3 separate regions of the Homo sapiens genome follow, and regions 1 and 3 are each linked to region 2. The links come from fine-mapping of genetic effects on plasma protein levels. A gene starts in region 2. Each other region holds a variant in brackets. All regions are shown on one strand. Distances are between the middles of the regions. Region 1 overlaps CHL1 (cell adhesion molecule L1 like). Region 2 holds the start of CHL1 (cell adhesion molecule L1 like). Region 3 has its middle 24 kb from the start of CHL1.

The links. A credible set is the group of variants that fine-mapping cannot tell apart. PIP is the posterior inclusion probability: the model's chance that the variant is causal. The UK Biobank Pharma Proteomics Project read protein levels with antibody pairs (Olink). The fine-mapping took linkage between variants from a reference panel, not from the people measured, so its PIPs are less certain.
Region 1: its variant is the best candidate, but not a certain one, in a credible set for the plasma level of the CHL1 protein (UK Biobank, PIP 0.85).
Region 3: its variant is the best candidate, but not a certain one, in a credible set for the plasma level of the CHL1 protein (UK Biobank, PIP 0.52).

The regions. Positions count from the first base shown.
Region 1 is chr3:216,124-218,889 of GRCh38, reverse strand. The region is part of intron 1 of CHL1 (cell adhesion molecule L1 like); the gene reads right to left. Among named protein-coding and RNA genes, the nearest start is that of CHL1-AS2, 20 kb to the right of the region's middle. The variant A/T (reference allele first, on the strand shown) is at 1,048.
Region 2 is chr3:195,627-198,392 of GRCh38, reverse strand. It overlaps CHL1 (cell adhesion molecule L1 like), which reads right to left and starts at 1,630. Exons shown (of 28, transcript NM_006614.4): 1 at 1,330-1,630. CHL1-AS2 (CHL1 antisense RNA 2) reads left to right here and starts at 1,052. Exons shown (of 4, transcript NR_144487.1): 1 at 1,052-1,426; 2 at 1,885-1,937; 3 at 2,353-2,397; 4 at 2,479-2,635.
Region 3 is chr3:170,921-173,686 of GRCh38, reverse strand. No RefSeq gene overlaps it. Among named protein-coding and RNA genes, the nearest start is that of CHL1, 24 kb to the left of the region's middle. The variant C/G (reference allele first, on the strand shown) is at 1,438.

The DNA.
Region 1 (2,766 bases), 20 kb before region 2:
CAGGTGTGAGCCAGTGCGCCCGGCCTACTTTTTGACTTTTCAATTATAACCATTCTGACCGGTGCGAAATGGTATCTCATTGTGGTTTTGATTTGCATGAAACGTGTTCTCTTTCTTTGCCCATTTTTCCTTTCTGTTGTCTTTTTCCTCATAAATTTAAAAAAGTATTATTTTGTTCTTTATGTCATTCTTTATATCACAATAAATCATATCATTTCACATAGATTTGAAAGTTAGCATCCAAAGCTTAAACTTTAATTTTTATAGAAGAAGAACACATTTAGCAGCACTTGACATCATCAATATATGGGCTAAAACTTAGGGCAGGAATTTGTGCTAAAGTCAACATAATTTATTTTCTATTCAGTAAACCTTTCAATGATCAAATGATTCCTTCTTTGGAAAAGAGGATGTGGGTAACATCTTCTCTACTGACTTGAGGAAACTTAAATATGATACACAAAAGTATATTAAGGAAAAAGATATCCAAACTCCATTTGATACCATTATCATGCCATTTTAATCAACACACATCATGCTTATGATCAATAATTGAATGGAAAGGGTCTTTCATCTTCTAAAACATAACTGCTGTAAGAATTAATAAGCAGGTTCTGTCAGTGCAGAAAGTATTCAGGAATTCTTTCTGCAAGAGCACACCCTCATCCAATCCAGAAGCTCACAAAATTTCACCCATCCCAGCCCTGAGGTCTTTTGGAAATCACCCAATCACTCTGCTATTAAGAAGCCTGAAAACACGTATCGTAAACCTTGTCATCTCACAACCACTTATTCTTTGATTGTTTCCTGTGGAGGTTTCCTGTGCAGGGGCTGTGGGTTATAATTTACAACAGCCCCCAAAGCACCCATATCATCTTAATAGAAGTACAATAAATAAAATAATAAAACAGCCTTGCTCATAAAATCCCCTTTATCACATCCTCATTCAAGCCTAAGCTGTTCTTATCTCCCTTGCGGAATACCAACTGGTCCTCCTCTCCATTGCAATCTACTCTGCATGCAACAGCCAAGGTTTGTTTTGTTTGT[A/T]TATATAAATATATATACATATAGACACAAATTACATCAACTAGCTTAACTGTTGGAATTCCTTTGAAGTTCCTATACTGCACTTAAATCCATATTGTTGTCCATGACCTACAAGGCCTTATGTGATCTGCCCTAAGCTCACCTTGTGCCAGCTGGTTTCTCCCACACTCACTGCACTGCAGGTTCTAGCCTTCTGTCCATTCCAGATGGGGCCAAATTGATTCCTCCACACCGCCTCTCCACTTGCTTCCCCTCTGCTGGGAACTCTGCTCTTCTGGCTCTTTTCCTGTTTGCCTTCTTCCCTTTCTGGCTCAGCGTGAAAGGCACCTTCTCAGATAATCCTTTCTAAAGTAAGTTTCTCCTCCCATTTTTTTCTATCACAGTCCTTTGTTTCTTTCCCGTAAAGATTTATTTATTGGCTAACATTCTTAGTAATGGCAACTCTGGGAGGGCAGGAAATCTGTCTTCCTCACAGTGCCTGGGATTTGTTCGCAGCTCAATAAATATTTGATGCATGAATAAATGAACCAATGGCTTCTTAGAATCAGAGCTACACATGCACACACACGTATACACATATACCCTTTGCTTGGAGAGACCTGTTTTCTTTCCCTGTTTTGTATCTGGGAGCACAGCTGCAACCCCATGGGTAATTTTTTTTCTGTTATTGTTCTTTTTTCAGCATGAATCTATTAATAATCAAACCAAATTATTCAGGAATTGCACAGAAGGTAATTTCTTCCCCAATGCACACAGGACCAAAGGGTGGGGGAAAATCAAGCTACTGAAAATTTCCTTCCCCTGCAGACTTTTAAACTGCTAATCAGCACAAGCAGCTTGTAGCAGACTGAGCACAAAAGGTTGCTGAAATGGCACATAACTAATTCCAGGTGATTTAATATCTTATGCTGCCTTAGTGAAAATATTGACAAAGAAGAACCACATGATTTGGAGTTTTTCTGCACTGCTGAATTCAGTGTTAGCTTCTGAGCCTCTATCATGGCATTTCCATATATCAGCATTGCTTAAGGAAGTAAGTCTGGGTGTGCCATCCAGAAACCACTGCCAAATTGGAGAAATGCTAGTTTTCTGTTGTGATTGGCCATATTTAGCAGCCTCTCTTAAAAATGTAGAGTTCACTTTGGCCATGGCATCATATGCCTACAGAAGAAATAAGTCTACCAAATATATTGCCAATACCCATGGGTAGTTGGCAGTGATAGGAGAAATTTGAAGTTCAGATACTTTTGGTAAAGCCACATCTCACACAAGACATCTGTAAGCACAGACTTTTTTTAATAGACAGGGTTGGTGTAGAGTTGACTCTCCTAGGGTTCAAAGGCTAGTCTTTCATTCATAAAAGTATTCTGGTACAACGTTTCAGAATTAACTCTCAGCTTTATGAAAGAAAATGTTCATTTTAATTCTCCTGATCACATTAGAAAGAATACACAAAAGTGAAGAGACTTTTTCAATTGTCACATAAGAATGTCAAAGTTAAAATCACAGGACAACAAAAAGGAAAGAGAAAACTATAATATTTAGAATTATTCTGTTAAACACCCTTAAAGATATAGTTTCTGGTTTTTTGAGCCCAAACTGCAAATACCAGTAAGACAATATCCCCCATAGCACTTCAATTTAAAATTGTGCCATCAAGACATCAGCTTTAAAATACTATCTGATTAGTTTTATCCCTTTTAAATACAGTGGTATTTT
Region 2 (2,766 bases):
CGCAAATCTCCCCGCGCACGGCGCGTTCCCGCGGGAGCGCGCCCTCGCGCACGCGCCTGGCAGGGCAGCCGCTCGCCGGCCCTGGGGCTGCTCCGCGGCTCCCACGAGCGGGACTGGACGCCGGCGCCCTTCGAGGAGGGGCTGAACCTGGGGCGCCCTCTCTGCCGGGCCACCCAGCCCTGCCGACGCACACCTGCCCTCCGCCGCCGGCCTCCCACCCCTTCCCCGCCCGCCTTCCCGCCCAGCAGCCCAAACGCCCACCCTGCGCTCCACCCTGCTGGCCGTCTGGGGCGGGGGTACCTGGGCCCGCGCGGCTGCTGCTCCTCCGGCCCGTGGTTTTTCGCAGGAGTTCCCCGGCCCTGCCCCTGGCTGAGACACTGTGGCTCGCAGCGAGCCCGGAGAGTGGGAACGGAGGGGCTGGCTTTCCCCAGCCTCCCGGCTCCAATCCCTGCTCCCCAAATTAATCACTTTCTCCGTGCTGCCTCCCCACGCACACTCACACTCCAAAAAAAAAAAAAAAGCGAGAGAAAGAGAGAGGCACAAAGAGGAAGAAGGGACCATCCGCGACCGGCATCTCCAGCCCCCCGGGCTCCGCTACCAGGAGCCATGGCAACCACGGCCCCCGGCGCGCCCTCTCGCCCCTCGGCGGTCTGGGGAGGTGGAGCTCTAGCCCCTCTCTGGGTTTTCGTGCTCCCCAACCCCACAACCCCACGGTCCATGGATTCCCCGCTCCAGGCTGGCGGCATTTTCGGAACCCCCCCCGGGCTGGGATCTAGAATCCTCTCCTGAGAGGAGGAGCCACACAGGGGCAGTGGACTGGGGGGGTCTGAGCCCCACACACCAGGCGGTGTCCAGGGGAGCGAGGGGCGCGGTGGGAGACAGAGGCCGGGACTGACCCCCAGACCAGCTAGACCTCGGAGCCCCACCCGAGAGAGGGCGGAGATCTACGGGGGGGTCTGGAATCCTCCTCAGAGAGCAGCGAGGGATGGGGTGGCGGAGGCTGGAAGCGGGAGGGCCAACCTACCGGCGGCCGGCGGGCGTGAGTGGGACCCGGCGGATTCGGGCGCCCGGTGTGCTCCGTCGACTGACCCCGAGCTGTCCGAATCCGGCCTCGGCCACCGGGGGCGGGGCGTGAAAAGGGGGCGTCTCCTCCCGGGTGCAGGCTGAGGGGCCCGGACCACCCCCACTGCGGACGAGGGACCCTGACCGCGCCCCGCTTCCTTTCCATAACGAGTGGACCCCTCCCGGAGCACCTTCAGCCCTTCCTCCACGGGAGACCCCCCCAGCGCCGGCACGAGAGATGCCAGCGGACCCCCACCCCTGACACACCTGCGCCGCCTCCGAAACGCGATCTGTCCGGCGCCTCCCCTCGGGCGCCTTCTCCCCCGAGCCGGCCGGGAGCCGGGACGGGGGCGCGCAGGGTCCGGTAAGCTCTGGGCGGATCCAGGGAGGGTCTCGCCGGCCGCTGCCCGCTGGTCCGCACCCGGGGCTGTCCGCGGAGGTCCCGCCCGTCCCCTCCCGCCGCTGGCTCTCTGGCCGCGGGAAGGCTGGAGCCGTTCTGGCTGGCACCGGGGTCTACGCCCTCCTGCCGGAGGCTGGCTCTCGCCTCTGCTCCCTTCCTGGGTTCTGCGCCGCCACCCCTCACCCACGCCGCTTATCTTCCCTCCCTTTGCACGCTCCCGCGGGACAGGGAGAGTTACAGGCTTCAGACTTTATCTCGTTGTGGAAAGCAAGAGACCAAGCCAAAAACTTTGGTCGTGCTTTTCAACATCTCCGGTCAAAAGAGGTAGGATCCCTGCTCGTTTATCTGCAAAAGCGACATTTAAAAGAAACGCCCCCCACCCCCTCCCCGATGGTTTCACTCGGTTCATGTTGCACACACAGGTCGCCAATCTGCTTTTCTCCCATTGCTGCGTCTTAGAGGGGTGTGGTGCCATGTACGTATTAAAAATTGTCTTCTTGCTTTCCTTCATTTAAGGGCGTGGTGGGGCTTGCTATTGAATTTACAAAATATGCTACGACCATCCGCTGTCAAATTGTGCATGCTTAAATTTACAGATCTTCTACTATCTCACAATTTTTGCCCTAATACAGAGTCTATAATGTTACCACATCGTTTCGTAACGTTTTTCCTACTTATCCTTTATTAATTCACTATTGGAGAGGAAAGCCTTCTGTACTCATATTCAGTGCAAAAAGCCAGTTCTGATGCCTTATGAATCCACAAACACATAAAAATATTTTAGGATTCCAAAATTCATATGGAAAAATTATAATTTTTAGCACTACATTTGATTTATATGCCACTTTATTTTTTTTCCATTATGGTGGTATTTTCCAAAATTTTTACAGGATACCACTTTTGAAAATCCTGTTGAATGCAAGTCCTCTTTGTTGGTAAGAGAATTATTGACTTCTAATTTTTACTCCACTAAGGCTGTGAGATTGACCTTACAGCCTCGTTTTGTTTTCATCTAGCTCATTGAACAATGAGGATATTTAGCTCCCCTCAGAGCTACCCTCAGAGTTGGATGAGCTATCCTCAGAGTTGGATGCCACCACCGGGAGCAGCAAAAGCGAAGGCAACTCATGATTCTGCCTCAGAAGCAATCGAATAAAATATTTTGAAAATGAATGAATGGACTTTTAAATTTTAATCATCGCTAACCTTGGGGCCTCGATTCTGTCAATTTGTGTGTGGGCACAGTTCTTACCAACTGCCTTGGCAAATTGTGAATGCAAGTGAGGGCAGGATTTGTCCTAAGT
Region 3 (2,766 bases), 25 kb after region 2:
ATTTCTGCATTTATTTTTGTAGGTATAGATATACCCACAAAAGTAGTATATACATATACCTAATAAGTATATATACACCTTTCTCTCTCTATATATAGAGGTGTATGTATATATAGAGGTGTATGTATATATACACACACACACTTATAAGGTATATATATATATACACACACTTATTTATAAATATAAATAAGTATATAAGTATATACATATAAATATATACAGATATACACATAAGTACATACATATAAATATATACATATATACACATAAGTATATACTTTATATATCTGTAAGTATATAGGTATATAAATCCAATAAGTATAGGTATATAAAGTGTATATATGTATATATATAATATACACAGTTATATGTATATACACACTTATTTAATAAAATAAAAATCACTAGAAAAAATAGCTATTTACTTACTTTATGACATGTAATATTGTAATAATTAATTTTCAAATACTTTGTAATTTTGGAGAAAATTTAGCTAACTGACCTTTTCTAAGTATTACCTTTTTATAGTACAGGCACCAACAGATTATTATTGTTGTGGATTATATTAAGTATTGATTATTAGAGACTGTCTTATATTGAGTATTACATTGTATTACATATTAAGCATTATTATGAGAGATGTTTGGAGAATAAATTTTTGGCATTACACAAATATGTATGTTGAGCAAAATATTATTCTTGAATAAAGATATGGAATATAAATATTACTATTTAAAGATCTCTTATATATTTACCTGGTAAAATTAAGTTTGAACGAAAGATTCATAACATGTATGAATGCTAAGTGAAACAAGGTGTATTGTTGACATATAAATTACTTATAGTAAATATTTTTTATACCTCTCATGAACATAAATTCAAGCTAAAATATAGCAAACTTTATGAAGAAATTATTAAGAAAATTGTTCACATAGGAAGCTTCTCAACATACTTACTTTATTCTAAAATTCTCAAATAACTAAAGGTAAAATGAAAGTTTATTTTCAACTGTTTAATATTCCAAGCTATGCAATATGCAGAAGACAAAAATCATAATTTTACACCCAAAGCTCTCTTACGTCCTCATCCTTAGACCAGAGATATTAAGACTTGCAATTATGTATCTTTCTTACTCCCCTATGCGTGTTTTTGCAAAGAAGCTCCTGTTTCCTTTGTTTACACTGAGTGTGGACATCTAGAATATCAAATCATTCTAATGAAATCACTGCAGATTCTTCATTGGTCGTTATGAGTGTCCTAATTAGGTGGAACAATAGTAATGATTCCAAATTTTCTTCTATTTCAGCATCATTTCCATTCTTAATTCATTATGGCTATGCAGACAGGGTCAAGCATTTAATTAAGAAATGATCGGCCAGGCGGGGTGGCTCACGCCTGTAATCCCAGAACTTTGGGAGGCTGAAGCAGGCAGAT[C/G]ACAAGGTCAGGTGTTTAAGACCAGCCTGGCCAGTATGGTGAAACCCTGTCTCTACTAACAATACAAAAATTAGCTGGGTGTGGTGGTGGGCACCTGTAATCCCAGCTACTTGGGAGACTGAGGCAGGAGAATTGCTTGGACCCAGTAGGCAGAGGTTGCAGTGAGCCGAGATCGTGCCATTGCACTCCAGCCTGGGCAACAAGAGCGAGAATCAGTCTCAAAAAAAAAAAAGAAAGAAAGAAAGAAAGAAAGAAAGAAAGAAAGAAAGAAAGAAAGAAAGAAAGAAAGAAAGAAAGAAACCCCATCTCTACCAAAAATACAAAAAAATAGCCAGATGTGGTGGCACACCCCTGTAGTCCCAGCTACTCAGGAGGCTGAGGCAGGAGAATCACTTGAACCCAGGAGGCGGAGCTTGCAGTGAGCCGAGATCGGGCCACTGCCCTCCAGCCTGGGCGACAGAACGAGACTCCATCTCAAAAAAAAAAAAAAAATTATTTGGATAATTCTCCCAAAAGAAATACCACACATGTACATGCAGAAAAATTCAGTCTTGAAGATCAAATTTGTCATTCAAATTAATTAATTTTACCAGGGAATTCCTCATTTGATGGCTACATGGTATAGTGGAAAGATTATTCAATCATACTATTTGTATTGCAAATAACAAAAAATTCGGCTCACACTATTTTAATGGAAATTTATTGTATCATATATTTGGAGATTCCAATAGTATGTTCTGGCCTTTGGGCATGGTTGGATCCACAGGCACCAGCAGTATCTGTTGGCTACAGTCTCTTTCTTCATTCCTAATTTTATATATATATTTAAATATATATATATTTTTTTGCTTGCTATCATTGTTTGTTCAGACATTCCCCATGCAATAGGTGAGAAGACGAGAGACCCATATTCAGCTACAGACCCATATTCTCCCATCTTAGCAACCCATGAAAAAAGATGATACCAATAGTAATACCAATAAAATAACAGCAGGTATTCAGCTATAAGAAATTACTTCATGCCAGGACATTTCCAAGTTCTTTAATACTCTTTTACTAATCAAAGCAATTTTATGAAGTGGATGTATTATTGTTCATATTTTAAAGATGAGAGTAAGTCCATTAGGCTTTTTGCTAAGTCCATTAGAAAATTTGGGAAATCCCTGATTGATCTGATTGTGGTTCAAATTCTTATTGCTGACACTATCTACACTTAAGGCAGATTTTATATACAATTAGCCCAGCCTAGTTCACATTCTACCCTTACAGCCAGGGAAAGTGTGCAATGTTCTTCAAAAAGGGAGGAAAATATCCTAAAACTACCAGTTC